Linked DNA regions of Homo sapiens: region 1 is linked to region 2. Evidence: fine-mapped expression QTL. A gene starts in region 2. The other region holds a variant in brackets. All regions are shown on one strand. Distances are between the middles of the regions.

Region 1 (8,330 bases), 24 kb after region 2:
AAAAATTAGCCGGGCGTGATGGCGCACACCTGTAACCCTAGCTACTCGGGAGGCTGAGACAGGGGAATTGCTTGAACTGGGAGGCAGAGGCTGCGGTGAACCGAGATTGCCCCACTGCACTCCAGCCTGGGTGACAGAGTGAGATTCTGTCTCAGAAAAAAAAAAGAAGTTGATGTGAACAGAGAGTAATGTAGTTGAGGAGTAGGCACTTTTTTTTTTTTTTTAATGGAGACAGTGTCTGGCTCTGTTGCCCAGGCTGGAGTGTGATGGTGCGATCTCCTCTCACTGCAACCTCTTCCTCCTCAGTTCAAGTGATTCTCCTGCCTCAGCCTCCTGAGTAGCTGGGATTACAGGTGCCCACCAGCACACGTGGCTAATTTTTGTATTTTTAGTAGAGATAGGGTTTCACTATGTTGGCCAGACTGGTCTCAAACTCCTGGCCTCAAGTGATCTGCCCACCTCAGCCTCCAAAAGTGCTGGGATTGCAAGTATGAGCCATCGCACCTGGCATCTTCTCCTTTTTAAAACAAAATATGTTGCATGGTTCAGAATTCAAAATTTTGTTTTAAAAAGTTTAATGAAAAGTCTTGCTTCTTTATGAGGTGTAAGGGGCTGAAAAACATTCCCATTTGTGGGAGGTCTTGAGGAATGAGTAGGATTACATGGGTGGAGAGACAGGTTATCTTTGGCAGCAGGAACAAGGTAAACCAAGGTAGGCTGGTGATGCTGCCCAGGAAAGGGCCATTATTTCTCCCGAATCCAGGTTTCCTGGGTATAGTTTTAGTCGTTATCATTGTCATTTTAGCACATTGTAAGGTCTAGATCACTGGCAAATTTTTCCACATTTCATTGTTAACAAGAAAATGTAATTTTTCAGATGATATTTTTGCTCTAACAAATTATGCATGTGCGGTTTTAACCTTTGTCACTTTTTTTTTTTTGGAGACAGTGTCTTGCTCTGTCACCAGGCTGCAGTGCAATGGAGTCATCATGGCTTATTGCAGCCTTGACCTCCTGAGCTCAGGCAATCCTCCTGCCTCAGCCTCCTGAGTAGCTGGGACCATAGGCATGCACCACCACGCCCTGCTAATTTTGTTGTCGTTGTTATTTATAGAGAAGGGGTCTTGCTATGTTGCCCAGGCTGGTCTCAAACTCCTGGGCTCAAGCAGTCCTCCCGCCTCAGCCTCTCAAAGTGCTGAGATTACAGGTGTGAGCCACCATGTGTGGCCTAACTTTTGTCATTTTTGAAAATATATTATTTCTACTAATTTTAATTTTTTTCTGGTATTCTGGACAAAATGTCCTTAGTAACAACATTGCAAAGTCAGAAGTTTGTGATCAAAGTATTATTTTAAATTCCCTAATATACTTGGGTGTATTTCTGAATTCACTCATTAGGTACATTTGCCTGTCTCTCTGTTTTTGAACCACATTGTTTAGCTATATAACACATCTCTTTGTCTGTTAGGGTTTTATCCTTTTGCATTAATAGTTTTCCTTTAGCTGGACTTTAGTTTCATTTTGTCATATTTCAGAAATAGCCTCTGGAGTGTTTGTTTGTTTGTTTTTGAGGAGTCTTGCTCTGTCACCCAGGCTGGAGTGCACTGGTGTAGAATTTTGGTTCACTACAACCTCCCCTCCCGGGTTCAAGCGATTCTCCCACCTCGCCTCCCAACTAGCTGGGATTACAGGGACCTGCCATCATGCCAGGCTAATTTTTGTATTTTTGTAGAGATGGGATTTCACCATGTTGGCTAGGCTGGTCTTGAACTCCTGAGCTCAGGTGATCCGCCCTCCTCAGCCTCCCAAAATGCTGGGATTACAGGTGTGAGCCACTGCGCCCGGCCAGTCCCTGGATTTGGGTGAAGATCATGAGTTCAGTTTGAGTTTAAAGGCGGGAAAAGTCCTGTGTCCCAGTTAGAGGTAGCAGGCAGGAGGAATTCTTTGTTATTTGGGTGAGGGTCAGCCTTTTGTTCTACTCAGGCCTTAAAATTGATTAGATAAGGCCCACCCATATTAAGAAGGGCAATGTACTTTATCAGTCTGCCTATTTACATGATAATTTCATAACAAAAGCAGCCTGACAGATATACCCAGCATAATATTTGCCAAATATCTGGGCACTCATGCCCCAGTCAAGTTGACAGGTAACCATCACAGTTGCACCGCAGCTGTGATCGGCCTGCCTGGTGAGCCTCATTCCTTTTGTTCAGATTGTCCAACATTAATTCTTTCTTTTTCTTTCTTCTTTCTCCACCCGCCCCACCCCCACCCCATACTTCCTTTCTTTTTTCTTCTTCTTTTTCTTTTTTACTTTATAAAGGTTTTCCAAGGACACTTCCACAGGCAGAAGCCCTAGATAGAGCTTATCAGATCGACACAGTGATTAACCTGAATGTGCCCTTTGAGGTCATTAAACAACGCCTTACTGCTCGCTGGATTCATCCCGCCAGTGGCCGAGTCTATAACATTGAATTCAACCCTCCCAAAACTGTGGTGAGTAGTTGTTGTGGAACTGTCACATAGCAGACTGTCCCTGAGTCCTCTTGCCCTAACAGACATAAGTTGAGTGAACTTGGAAATCCTCTGACCAAAACTCCTGAGGGTATATTCTCAGGTTACTTGGTAGAGTTGACTGATCAAGTCCACTGAGCTTGGTGCGAAAGGTTGCCCCAGGAGCAGCAGGGGTTTGTTACTCATTCAAAAACATTTGTTGATTTCCTGCTCTGCCAAGGAGTGTGTTAGGAGTTGCGCTGATAGAGATTCATAACACCTTGGTTTATTTAGGACTTGCAGTTGAAATTCCAAGTTTATAGCTGAATCTTTTTGAATATATATGAACTTACTTAGAGGCTGCTTAGAAAACCTTTTACTCTAAGGCTAAAGTGACTGATAACTGTAGAAATGAAACTGGCGTACCCTGTTTCTGTTGCGATGATCTCTTTTGAGGTTGGATTCCATTTTTTTAAAAGTTAGCACATTTTTGTGCTTGGCACTTGCACAGAGATGTCTGTTTAAAAATAATTGAACTGCTTATGAAAATATCTTTCAGAAATATGATATCTGATACTAGTCTCTTCTAATCCTGTTTAGGGCATTGATGACCTGACTGGGGAGCCTCTCATTCAGCGTGAGGATGATAAACCAGAGACGGTTATCAAGAGACTAAAGGCTTATGAAGACCAAACAAAGCCAGTCCTGGAATATTACCAGTGAGTTTTTGCTTTTCAGAACTTCTCTTGCGTAGTGGTGCACTAAGTCTAGTTTTGATTTTCCTTCCTCTACAGCTGAAATGCTAAAATGCCAAAAGACCCAGTTCACATGGGCTTAAGTAATAAAGGAAATACATTAGCTTGTGTAACAGAAGTCCAGAAGGTAGGTTGGGCTTCAGTCACACCTGGGTTTGATCAGTGTAGCCGTTCTCTTGGTTTTGCCTTCCTGTGTGTGTATTGGCTTTGTCCTTAGGCTTCCTGCATGGTAGCAGACATTTGTAGGAACAGCCAGGGCTTCCTCTTCTATGAAGGGCTGAGGGGTAACCTTTCCTCCAGTGAATAGAAGCCCAGAGCACCACTCGGATGGAGCCAACTTGAACTACAGTCAGGGAATGCCTGGCACTAACTGTTACAGGCTTGGGTTACTGCCTACTGCAGAACCAGTCATTGGGGTGGGAAGGATTCCACTGATTACACTGACTAGTCCACTTCTAGAGTTGGCAGTGCGACAGTCTCATCCATACTCTGCTATGTGCAGATGTTCCGCAATTTACAATGAAATTACATCCTAATAAATCCATTGTAATTTGAAAATACCAAGCACCATAACTTAGCCTGCCTTAAACATGCTCAGAACACTTAGATTAGCCTACAGTTGGGCGAAATCATCTAACACAAAGCCTGTTTTGTAATAAAGTGTTGAATATCTCACATAATTTACTGAATATTGTACTGAAATTGAAAAGCAGGATGGTTGTACAGGTGCTCGAGGTACAATTTCTATTGAATGCATGTTGCTTTCGCACCATCATAAAGCTGAAAAATCCTGCATTGAATAATTGTAAGCTGGGGATTGTCGGTAGGGGAGGCAGGGCTGGAATGAATGCTGGGGAGGCAAACTTAATATTGCCCACCACATTTGCCAATACAGGATGCTATGGTGTGGAAGAATCTCAGATGGCAGCTAATCCCTCAGACTATGTAATTGGCTAGCAGTCTTTAAAAGCTTACATTTTAACATTGTTTTGTCTGCTCTTGTTTTGTCTGCAACAC[G/T]TATAGGAACCGTACTGAATGAGTATTTGACTTAGGCTAAGAAATACTCCAGTTTTCTTACTGAGCCTTCCTGCTTCTTACAGAGGATTGACTGCCTCCCCTTTCATTTATGTACTTATTGAATACTGATCCTGATCAGGGCAGAACAGTATCTTGGGCAGAACACAGACTCTGGAGCCAGAATACCTAAGTTCAAGTCCCAGCTCACCATCTTCACCTTCACCTTCTGCTTAACCTCTGCCTGTTTTTTCCTCTGTAAATTGGGGAAGAGAATAAAGGTTTGAAAGATTAATATGGGTAACTCTTAGAACTGGGCCTGACGCATAGAAAGCACTATAGAAATGTTAGCTATTGTTATTGTTGTTGTAATAGCGTATGTATGCAGTAGAAATCTGAAGCAATAGTTTCCAAACTGTTATTTATTTATTTATTTTAGAGACAGGGTCTCACTCTGTCACCCAGGTTGGAGTGCAGTGGTTCTTTCATAGTTCACTACAGCCTTGAATTCCTGGGCTCAAGCAATTCTCCTGTCTCAGCCTCCCAAGTAGCCAGGACTATAGGCCCGTGCCACCAGACCTGGCCAATTAAAAAAATTTTTTTTAGAGCTGGGGCTCTTGCCATGTTGCACGGGCTACTCAAACTCCTGGCTTCAGGCAACCCTCCTGCCTCGGCCTCCCAAAACATTGGGATTACAGGTACGAGCCACCATGCCTGGCCTTTCAAACCATCTTAATTTTTTCTGGAGCATAAAATTACAAGGTTGGCAAACCATTTTTTGTAGTAGCTGTTACTATAATTTTGTCATTTGTTTAATGAGGCTGGTTCTGAAAATTACCGTCTCTTTTGCCCTAGGCAAGCTATTTAACCTCCATGCCACAAATCCCTTATTTGTAAAATCAGGCAATATTAAATAGCATCTGCTTTATAGGGTTGTTAAAAGAATTAAGTGAGAGATCCTGGAAAGTCCTACAACAGCCCTGGTGTCTATTAAATCATTCATTGTCAGCAATTATTGTTCACTCTCTTGACACTGTGCTAGGCCCTTGGTCCACATGGACAATTAGATCCAGTCCCTGTCAGGCTCCAAGAAGCTATGTTTGTGGGTGAGGTGGGGAGCTGGGTAAACAGTATTTATCATACAATATGATATGTGCTTATATTAACTAAGAACCTAATTCACACCAGGTTAAGCAAAAGGGGAATTTATTGGTAATGTAACTGAAAAGTCAAAGATAGATGGATGGGTCCAGGTGTTCAAAAACACCTATCATCAGGCGTCAGTCACTCCGCTCCATTGTCCTGTGCTGGCTTCAGTCTCAGGTGTGCCCTCCCTGTGTAGCAGCCCCTCAGCTTTCCAGTTTACCTCCTACCAGCCAGAAACCCCAGCAGCAAAGAGCCTCTTTTGCCAGCAAAAGTCTTGGGGTCGGCACCGATTAGCTCTGATCATGTCCATCCTTGAAGATGGGGAGTGGGGACAGTCTCTCCTGAACCTCGTCGACTGAGTTTGGTGGAGAGGTTATTTCCCAAAGGTAACCAGAGGAAGGGAGAATGCATTGTTGCTGGGCAGATAACACCACCACTGCAAGGCTATGAATGATAATCCCCCAAAGCAGTGAAGTACCAGGGGTTGTTGGGATTCGTTCTGTCAAAATATCAAAATATGGGAAGGGGCCTGGGACAGTGGCTCATGCCTGTAATCCCAGCACTTTGGGAGGCTAAGGCAGGAGGATCGAAAAGGCAGGAATTCAAGATCAGCCTGGGCAACATGGTGAAACTCTGTCTCTACAAAACATAAAAAAAAATATTAGCCAGGCATGGTGGCACATGCCTATAGTCCCAGCTACTGGGGAGTCTGAGGTAAGAAGATTGCTTGGACCCAGTGGGTCAAGACTGCAGTGATCTATGATTGCTCCACTGCAGTCTAGAGCGCGGGTGTCAGAGTGAGACCCTGTCTTAAAAAAAAAAAAAAAAAAAGTAGTAAGGGAAGTTAAGGAAAGCTGCGAAGATGAAGTGAAAGACACGGGCCCCTGTCTTAGGAGATATTTTAGAAGTCTTTCTAGGCTCCTTCTGGCTTTTGCTGCCTTTTGCTGTTAATTCAAGCTTTTCTTTTCTTTTTCTTTCCTTCTTTCTTTTTTTTTTTTTTTTTTTTGAGACGGAGTCTCACTCTCTCTCAGGTTGGAGTGCAGTGGTGCCATCCCAGCTCACTGCAGCCTCCTCATCCCAGGTTCAAGCGATTCTTATGCCTCAGCCTCCCCAGTAGCTAGGACTACAGGCACGTGCCACCATGTCCTGCTAATTTTTGTATTTTTAGTAGAGACGGGGTTTCGCCATGTTGGCCAGGCTGGTCTTGAACTCCTGACCTCAAGTGATCCACCCTCCTTGGCCTCCCAAAGTGCTGGGATTACAGACTTGAGCCACCACACCCGGCCGAATTCAGTCTTTTCATTCTCAGCTCCCACACGTAGAACTCAGCGAGACTTGACTAAAAACTGAAAGTTTATTTGCAAGAATGTTAGTAATAGTCAGCATTGTTATTTAGAAATGCTGACAGTTGTATTGTTGGTTGTTTTAAAAAAAACCTTTTAGCTGTGGGACATTATAGAGTAACTGGTCTATGTTTACAAACAACATGATGCCCTTACTCTTTGGAGGACCAATTGTTGAAGCTGGTTCCATTTTATTACACAGAAATTAAAATGACAAATGTTCACCCACGATTTAGGATCGAATAGGTGCCTGCAATTGTGCCCTCAGTAATTAACCCACTTGTGACACTGGCTTGATTTTTAAATCGGCTCTTCAAGAGGCTTACAACAGTTAAGAAGCTTGTTCCCTTGAAAGCAGTACCAGGTGCCAGTGAATTTAGAAGCAGGAGGGTTTCTAATATCCCAAGAATGCTGTATTTGCATAATTTCCTTCCTTAGCAGATGTTTCTTACCGAGAAAACAGTGGGTGTTATTTAAGTTAACTGTGGCAAATTTTATGAGGTATCAAGGGAAGAATGCTTTTGTCCTTAGTGAAAGCCCTGAAAACCTCGGAAGAAGGGCCACACAGGTATAAGGAATCCTCTTTTCACAAAGTCATAAACCAGAGTTCTTAGGTTGTCCTTATGCAGTCTTTACACCAGTGTGTATGTGTGGAGGCGAATGTGTGGAGGTGTATATGTGGAGGTGTGTGTATGTGGAGGCGTATGTGTGGAGGTGTGTGTATGTGGAGGTGTGTATATGTGTAGGTGTGTATATGTGGAGGTGTGTATATGTGTAGGTGTGTATATGTGTAGGTGTGTATATGTGTAGGTGTGTATATGTGTAGGTGTATATGTGTAGATGTATATGTGTAGCTGTATATGTGTAGGTGTATATGTGTAGGCGTATATGTGTAGGTGTGTAAATGTGGAGGTGTGTATATGTGTAGGCGTGTATATGTGGAGGTGTGTATATGTGGAGGTGTATATGTGTAGGCGTAGGTGTACGCATGGGCTAGAGGACGGGTATTAGCAAGAGGAAGGCCAGAATCTTTGGAGGGAATCTGTGTGGCTTGAAAAGCACCCCCAGGATTCTGATCTCACTCTTCACCATGTTATCCACAGGAAACTGGAGTAAATAAAATAGACTTTGGCTGCTGGTCTAGTGACAAGCTAGACAAATCTGCCTGGGAAGAAATGAAGACAGTCAATAGGAAACCCAATAAAACCAACACTTTTTATTCCCCTTTCTGTTAATATTCAGAAGAGTGGAATAGAGGAGAACATAAATGTTGGCCTGGGCAAAAAGGAAAGATACTCAAGTATTAGAAAGTAGCTTTTGCAAAAGAGTAAGTAGAAAAAAAAGGCTGATGGGTGTTCTGGTATCTTATAGGTCCTGTTTGGAAATGTACTACCAACTTGGTGATTTGGGCTAAGTTACATTACAAAGGGATGATTTTATTAGTAAAATAAGAAAATTTGAGCTTTGGAAAGGATTAAACAAACTATAATATGTAAAGCATGTAGCACAGCCTTTGACACACAGTGCATGTTCAATAAATAAAATAAATGATAGGTGCTGTTATTTTTTTAAGCACCCA
Region 2 (8,330 bases):
TGGAAGTCACATAATATCACTTCCACCATGCTCAATTGGTCAAAACAGTCACAGAAGCCTATTCAGTTAAAGGTGGAGGGGACAGGGACCTCACCTCTTGATGGGAGAAGTGTCGAAGATAAGCTCATGGACTGGGAGTGGGCGTCGTGGCCATCTTCAGACAATACCATTTGCCACAGTGGTTTGTTAGGCCCTGTAAGGTCTGGACCCTCACTACCTCCCTGAGCTTTCTTGTTGAATAACTTTCATTTCTTGCTCTCTCTGTTCCAGGCAGAATGGCTTCTTTGGAAACTCAAGCACGCTCCTCCCTCAGGGGCTTTGCGTTTGTTCTTTTTCTCTCTAGAACATTCTTCCCCCAGATATTTTATTTATTTATTTATTTTCGAGACAGAGTCTCACTCTATCACCCAGGCTGGAGTGCAATGGTGCGATCTCGGCTCACTGCAACCTCCATTTCCCGGGTTCAAGTGATTTTCCTGCCACGGCTTCTTGAGTAGTTGGGATTACAGGTGTGCACCACCACGCCTAGCTAATTTTTGTTTGTTTGTTTGTTTGTTTATTGAGACAGAGTCTCACTCTGTCACCCAGGCTGCAGTGCAATGGCGTGATCTTGGCTCACTGCAACCTCTGCCTCCCGGGTTCAAGTGTTCAAGTGATTCTTATGCCTCAGCTTCCCAAGTAGCTGGGACTACAGGCACATGCCATCCCACCCAGCTATTTTTTGTATTTTTAGTAGAGATGGGGGTTTCACCATGTTGGCCAGGCTGGTCTCGAATTCCTGACCTTAAGTGATCCGCTCATCTTGGCTTCCCAAAGTGCTGGGATTACAGGTGTGAGCCAACACATCCGGCCAGGATATTCATTTATTTATTGAGACAGGGTCTTGCTCTGTTGCCCAGGCTGGAGTACAGTGGTGTGATCACAGCTCACTACAGCCTCAACCTTCCAGGCTCAAGCAATCCTCCCACCTCAGCTTCCCAAATAGTTGGGACCACAGGTGCACACCACCACACTGGCTAATGTTCTTCTTCTTCTTCTTTTTTTTTTTTTTTTTTGTAGAGGAGGGGGTGTCATTATGTTGCCTAGGCTGGTCTCAAACTCCTGGACTCTAGTGATCCTCCCGTCTTGGCCTCCCAAAGTGCTGGGATTACAGGTGTGAGCCACCACACCTGGCCTGGAGTGGATTTTTATAGTAGTGGATAACTGATGTACCTTCCTTCTCTTTGTCTTACTACAATCACTACAATCCTAGTAATTATTTCTCAAACATGAACCCTCCTATTCTTTTGTTCTCACCTAGGTAACACATAGTGTGAAGCAACATACAAACACATATACATGTTTCTTGGAAACAAGCTGTATTAGTTCCCTAGAGCTACAGTAACAAATTACCACAAACTAGGGGGCTTGAAACAATAGAAAGTTATTCTCTCACAGTTCTAGTGACTACAATTCATAGCCAAGGTAAGGGCAGGGTTATTCTCTCCCAAGGATCCTAGGGGAGAATCAGCTTTGTGTCTTTCTCTTGGCTTCTAGTGTCCCTAGCAATCTTTGGTGTTCCTCGGCTTGTAGCTGTATAAGCCCAATATCTGCTTCCATCGTCACATGGCATTCTCCTGCTATGTTTTCAGGTCATATTGGATTAAGAGCTGACCATCTTCCACTATGACCTGATCTTAACTACTTATGTCTGCAAAGACCCTATGTGTAAGTAAGGTCATCTTCTGAGGTACTGGGGATTAGGACTTCAATATATCTCCTGGGGGAATACAATTCAACCCATGACACATGCCTATCATTTCCCCCTCAGTTGTACATTGTAGAGTTGTACATTGAAGACTTAAACATTTCAGTCTTCAAATGTGACAAAGGCCGGGCATGGTGGCTCATGCCTGTAATCCCAGAACTTTGGCAGGCCAAAGCAGGAGGATCATTTGAGGTCAGGAGTTCAAGACCAGCCTGGCCAAAATGGCAAAACCGCTACTAAAAATACAAAAATTAGCGGGGCATGGTGGTGCAGGCCTGTAGTCCCAGTTACTTGGGAGGCTGAAGCAAGAGAATCTCTTGAATCCAGGAGGCAGAGGTTGCAGTGAGCCAATATCTCGCCACTGCACCAGCCTGGGTGACAGAGAGACTCCGTCTCAAAAACAAACAAACAAAAGTGACAAAACAGTAATTCTTAGTATTTAATCAACAAAACCCTACTGAGTGCCTACTATGTGCAAAGCACTCATCTGGGCTTTATTTGCTTCAAACTAATCTGTATAAACACTTGGTCATTAAATTAGAATTTGAATGAATTTGACCTCAGTGTTTTTCAGTTGGAACAAGGTAGGCAGTGAGGAACAGATCCATACAAAGGCCTGTGAATGGCGAAAAGACTATGCCAGGCACAGTTGCCAGGAGATTTCACAGACTGGCAGTTACTCATTTGTAATCAACAACCTTTTGCAAAGCCAAAGTTGATTGGTGTTTTGCGGGCCTGTTAATATGACCACGACACTCAGCTTTTCATCCCCGCAATGACAGGATGATTCCTCAGCTATTTTTGTTTGTTTGAACATTTTTTTTTTCTAAACCAAATTTCCCCAGGATTTTCTTTCTGGTTTCTTTTGGAGCTGAAACCTCCTATGTTCCCAGCTTTGGAGATTAGAAGTACTTTCTCCACACCTTCAGATTTTCTAGTATTGCATAAGTTGTACTTGTCCAGACTTGCTCATTCTTTAGTTAGTTCTGTTCAAGTTTTCTCATCCTTTCATTTATGTTGTTTACTTCATCCCTTCCTCTGCTTTCCATGGGTTATTTTGATGTCCTTTTCCCAATTACATGAATTCAATGTTTAATTCATTTATTTTCATTCTTTTCATTCTTTCTTGCTTAGTAATGAGTATGTATGAGCCCTGCTGGGCACAGTGGGGTGGCTCAAGCCTGTAATCCCAGCACTTGGAGAGGTCAAGGCGGGCAGATCATTTGAGGTCAGGAGTTTGAGATCAGCCTGGCCAACATGGTGAAATCCCATCTCTACGAAAAATATAAAAATCAGCTGGGCGTGGTGGCGGGTGCCTGTAATTCCAGCTACTCGGGAAGCTGAGGTATAAGAATCACCTGAACCTGGGAAGTAGAGGTTGCAGTGAGCTGAGATCGCATCACAGCACTCCAGCCTGGGCAACAAAACAAGACCCCGTCTCAAAGAAACAAAACGAGGCCGGGCGCGGTGGCTCACATCTGTAATCCCAGCACTTTGGAAGGCCAAGGCGGGTGGATCACCTGACGTCGGGAGTTTCAGACCAGTCTAAGCAACATGAAGGAACCCTGTCTCTGCTAAAAATATAAAATTAGCCGGGTGCGGTAGCGTGTGCCTGTAATCCCAGCTACTCGGGAGGCTGAGGCAGGAGAATCACTTGAACCCGGGAGGCAGAGGTTGCCGTGAGCCGATTGCACTCCAGCCTGGGCAACAAGAGCAAAACTCTGTCTCAAAGAAAAAAAAATGTACAAGGTATGTATTTTCTTTCTTTCTTTTCCACACCAGAAAGTATAAAGGCTAATGCCTTTTCTAAGTACCAGGCTGTCTACCTATTGAAATCCCCCATCCATTCACTCAGCTACGATTCACTGACTGTCTCACCCTGAAGTCATTTCTATCTTCTTTGAAATCAGTTCTGGACCTCTGAGGAGAATGGTAACTGTGTTTTATTTTCAGAGAGCCTTCTTTCTGCCTTAGCATAGTGTCCGGGACAAAGCAATGATGATAAATGGACAACCATTATTGAACATTGACCCCGTAGCTGGCATTGCACTAAGTACTACATTATTTTAACTCCTCCATTCTACTCCTCTATGCCCATTTTACAGGCAAAATGATACTCACTCGAACGTTTTTGTCCTCTGTTTCCATTCTTGAAACATGCCAAACCTCCAGTTTTAGGGCCTTTTCCTAAAACTGGACATAGGAAGGGCCCATGTCTCTCTCTTCCATATTCTAATTAAGCACTCAGCACACATGCCATCTCTTCAAAGCTTTTCCGACCGCCTATCTACAACAGCCTGCCTCCACAGTTTCACACACTCTTTTACGTTATTTATAAAAGAGTCTCACTCAATGGAAGCTGGATTTCCTCTCCTGTAAAATGAGGTAGGCCCTCTCGGCTCAAGGTCACTCCCTGTGATTCTACACAGAGAGGGAGTGGGAAGAGAGGGCGCTCGGCAGCAGAGGAGGAGGAGGAAGGAGGGAAGGGCGAAGGCGGGAGTGGGTGCAGAAGCGGGGGGTCTGGCGGTCCAGGGGGGTAGAAGGGAGGGGCGGATTCGAGTGGGCGCCAGGTGGAGGTGGGGCCAGGGTTGTCAAGGGAGCACGAAAGGGGTCGCGGTGTGTCCGGCAAGGACTGGGTAGGGCAGCGCCTGCTATGGACTAGGGGCGAGGGCTACGAAAGGGTTGTTGGAGGGGTGGATGCGGGTGGATCCCGAAACCAAGCGGCTCCGAGGGGCGACTAGAGGTGGGGAGGGGGCGCGCAGGAGTTGCCAAGGTCGGACAGAGGGGAGCGCGGTCTATCCGGCTGGGAATGGGCCGGACAGGGCGCGGGGTTCCGGGGTCGCGGAGAGGCGCGGAGGTAGATCTGAGCCGAGTGGAGGGCGCGTGGGGGTGGGTGCAGAGGGGCGCCGAAGGGATCCGGGCCCAGCGGCCGGTGGAGAGGGGCCGCGGAGAGGCGCAGGTGGGAGCTGGGCGGCCGAGCGAGCGCAGAGGGGGCGCGGCTTGCGCGGCTTGCGCGGCTGGGCGGGAACAGGCGCTCGGTCGGGGGCGGGGGGTGCGCCGGGGTAGCCGAGAGGCGGACGCAACAGCGGGGTCCCGCGCTGTCTGGGCGGCCCCAGGGGCTGTCGGCTCACTTCCGGGAACGCCGGGGAACCGCAGTAGCCGCCTGCTAGTGGCGCTGCTAGCCGGCCGGCGCAGGCTGCCGAGCGGGTGAGCGCGCAGGCCAGGCCAAAGCCCTGGTACCCGCGCGGTGCGGGCCTCAGTCTGCGGCCATGGGGGCGTCCGCGCGGCTGCTGCGAGCGGTGATCATGGGGGCCCCGGGCTCGGGCAAGGGCACCGTGTCGTCGCGCATCACTACACACTTCGAGCTGAAGCACCTCTCCAGCGGGGACCTGCTCCGGGACAACATGCTGCGGGGCACAGGTGGGAGCTCTGGGCCCAGGGCCGGCCGTGCGCTGTCACCCGGGTCGGACTTCGCGGGCGAGGGGCCGAAGCTGGGCACGCGGGTCCCTGGCTGCGGGCGCGGCATTTCCCTCCCGCCGCCCGGGACAGAGACCTCGGGCTGCTGAGCGACTGCGCCCCAAAACCTCCGGCCTCCGTGGGCCGCTTCGGGCGGGTTATGGGGTGGCGGTGGGGGAAGGGACTGGAAAGTTAGGTCGAGCTCGAAGTTCAGAGATGAAAGGAAACCACCGGGCTTTGTTTCAGAGGCCCAAGTCCTCCCAGTGGCAGCCACTCTTGGGGGTCCATCGAGCTGAGCCGCAGCTTGTTCAACGTGCTGGTGCCTTTGGAAGACTGTCATTAGCCCTGCTAGAGTCTGCTCGTTCTGTTTTGTTTTCTTTGTTTCTTTCTTTTCTCTTTCTTTTTTGGTGTGGTTAAGCTCTATGAGATCTTGTAGTTCTGACCTTTCCCCCATATTCCCAAGGCCAAGTATTATTTACCCTTGTTGCAGTCATAAAATTATCTCATTTTGATATCCTTAGATTTCGTAGACACGAAGGCTATTCTTGTGCATGGTTCTATAAAATATTTTGTTTCTCATGCCAAATAAATTCTTACAGCTCGGCACGAAAGGCAGTTAACAATCTACACTATACAATGGGTGAATTTGTGGTATGTAAATTCTCTCTTAAGAGGGTTGTTTTTGAAAAGCCAATCGCAGGAGTTTTTTTCTCAAAAAATGTTGACCTTACTTTTCAAAATAGAACCCGTTTTGAAACTCATTTTGAAACCCATTTACATAGAAATAATGCTTCCACAAGGCCTTTTTCTTTTGTTTTCCTTCTTTTTTTTTTTTTTTTTGTAAGGATAGCAAACAGGATAGACGTGCATAGCATAAAAAACAACGCCCTCTTTCGTTCCCTACCTCAGTCCCATTCTTCGGAGGGGAACAGAGTTTTCCTTCTAGAAAGGTTTACTTTTTAAGCGCAGATACGTGTACCTTTTTTCTTTTTTTCTTTTTGGTTTGTTTGTTTTTTGAGACGGAGTCTTGCTCTGTCTGCCTCCTGGGTTCAAGCAATTCTCCTGTCTCAGCCTCCCTAGTAGCTGGGACTACAGGCGCATGCCACCACGCCGGGCTAATTTTTTGTATTTTTAGTAGCGATGGGGTTTCACTGTGTTAGCCAGGCTGGTCCCCATCTCCTGACCTCGTGATCCACCCGGCTCGGCCTTCCAAAGTGCTCGGATTACAGGCGTGAGCCACCGCGCCCGGCCAACGTGTATCTTTTCTTGTATGTAATATGTGAGCATACTATGTGTATATACTCTGCACTAGTGTGGTTTCACTTTGTGTCTGGGATATATTTCACATGAAAACGGACAAATCCATTTCATTCTGTTTTTGTAGTATGTATTTTCTGAATCTAGTATGATTTATTTAACCAGTTCACACTTGTAATCCCAGCACTTTGTGAGGTCAAGGCGGGCGGATCACTTGACCTTAGCAGTTCTAGACCAGCCTGGGCTACTTGGTGAAACTGCGTCTCTATAAAAAATTCAAAAACAATTAGCGAGGCGCAGTGGCAGGCACCTGTGATCCTAGCTACTCGGGAGGCTGAGGAGAGAGAATCGCTTGAACCTGGGAGGCGGAGGTTGCTGTGAGTCGAGATTGCAACGCTGCACTCCAGCCTGAGCAAGACCCCATCTCGAAAAAAAAGAAAGAAAGAACAGAGATTGTTTGACTTGCTTGCTAAATGTTGTTAATGCGACATACTGAAGTAGTTAGGTAACATTAAACAGTCCCAGATACTGCTACTGGTTGGGGTCAGGTTAACCAAAGTCTAGGAGAGTAGGCCTGGCGCAATGGCTCATGCTTGTAATCCCAGCACTTTGGGGGCTGAGTCGGGCAGGTCACTTGAGGTCAGGAATTCAAGACCAGCCTAGGCAACATGACGAAACCCCCGTCTCTACCAAAAATACAAAAAATTAGCTGGGCATGGTGGCTCGCGCCTGTGGTCCCAGCTTCTCTGGAGGCTGAGGTGGGAGTATCACTTGAGCCCGGGATGCAGAGGTTGTCATGAGCCGAGATTGTGCTACTACACTCCAAGCTGGGTGACAGACAGAGTGATACCCTGTCTCAAAAAAAAAAAAAAAAAAAAAAAAGTAAAGCATATTTATTATAAAAGAAGGAAACTATATCTATTTCATGCAAATGTAAAAAAGGTAAATTAAGATCCCTCATAATTCTGCCTTGCCACACAGAGATGATTATAATTAACTCTTGGGTGCATTTTCTTTTATTCTTTTTTTTTCTTTTTCTTTTTTATTTCTGTTGCATTTGTATTTGCAAAATGGTTGTATTCTAAAATTGTCATATTCTAAATGATAGGTTACTTTTTTATTCTCATTTATAGTGAGCATGTTCACACATCATTAAGCAGTCTTAAAAATGATGTTTAAGCTGGGCGGGGTGTCTCACGCCTGTAATCCTAGCACTTTGGGAGGCTGAGGTGGGTGAATCACCAGAGGTCAGGAGTTCAAGACCAGCCTGGCCAACATGGCAAAACCCTGTCTCTACTAAAAATACAAAAATTAGCCAGGCATGGTGGTGGGCGCTTGTAATCCTAGCTACTTGGGAGGCTGAGGCAGGAGAATCACTTGAAACTGGGAGGCGGAGGTTGCAGCGAGCCGAGATGGCGCCATTGCATTCCAGCCTAGGTGAAAAGAGCGGAACTCTGTCTCAAAAAAAAAGATGTTTAATTTTATCAAAGTTGTATAGTTATTAAACATTTTTATTGGACGCGTATGTTGTTAACTATTGTTTGTTGTAATAAATACTGTTATGACTATCCCTGCACATAAACATTTGGCAAATCTTTGCTTATTTCCTTCAAATAAATTCCTAGTATGGAATTTCTACAAATATGGTACTATCAAATAATACAACAGAAGGATTGTGCCAATTTAGTTTCCAGTCATTGTTTCATGAGGGTGCTATATTTTATAACCCATGGCTGTATTTTATAGCTAAGGTTTAAAATCATCACAGGAGATATGATAAGGACACTGGAAACTTTAGGCAACTCATTGACAGTAGCAAAGCTGGAATAACTGTAGGTCATCACTGAAACTTGGAGTCAGGGAACTTGAA

What was found.
Region 1: its variant is fine-mapped to the expression of AK3 in whole blood (INTERVAL, PIP 0.97).

Annotation. Positions count from the first base shown.
Region 1 is chr9:4,713,301-4,721,630 of GRCh38, reverse strand. AK3 (adenylate kinase 3) reads left to right here. Exons shown (of 5, transcript NM_016282.4): 3 at 2,324-2,496; 4 at 3,094-3,212. It overlaps LOC124902112 (a long non-coding RNA gene), which reads left to right and starts at 3,219. Exons shown (of 2, transcript XR_007061401.1): 1 at 3,219-3,375; 2 at 4,349-4,557. The variant G/T (reference allele first, on the strand shown) is at 4,266.
Region 2 is chr9:4,737,774-4,746,103 of GRCh38, reverse strand. It overlaps AK3 (adenylate kinase 3), which reads left to right and starts at 4,902. Exons shown (of 5, transcript NM_016282.4): 1 at 4,902-5,167. The coding sequence starts at 5,017. RefSeq lists silencers at 4,513-5,002, 5,233-5,372.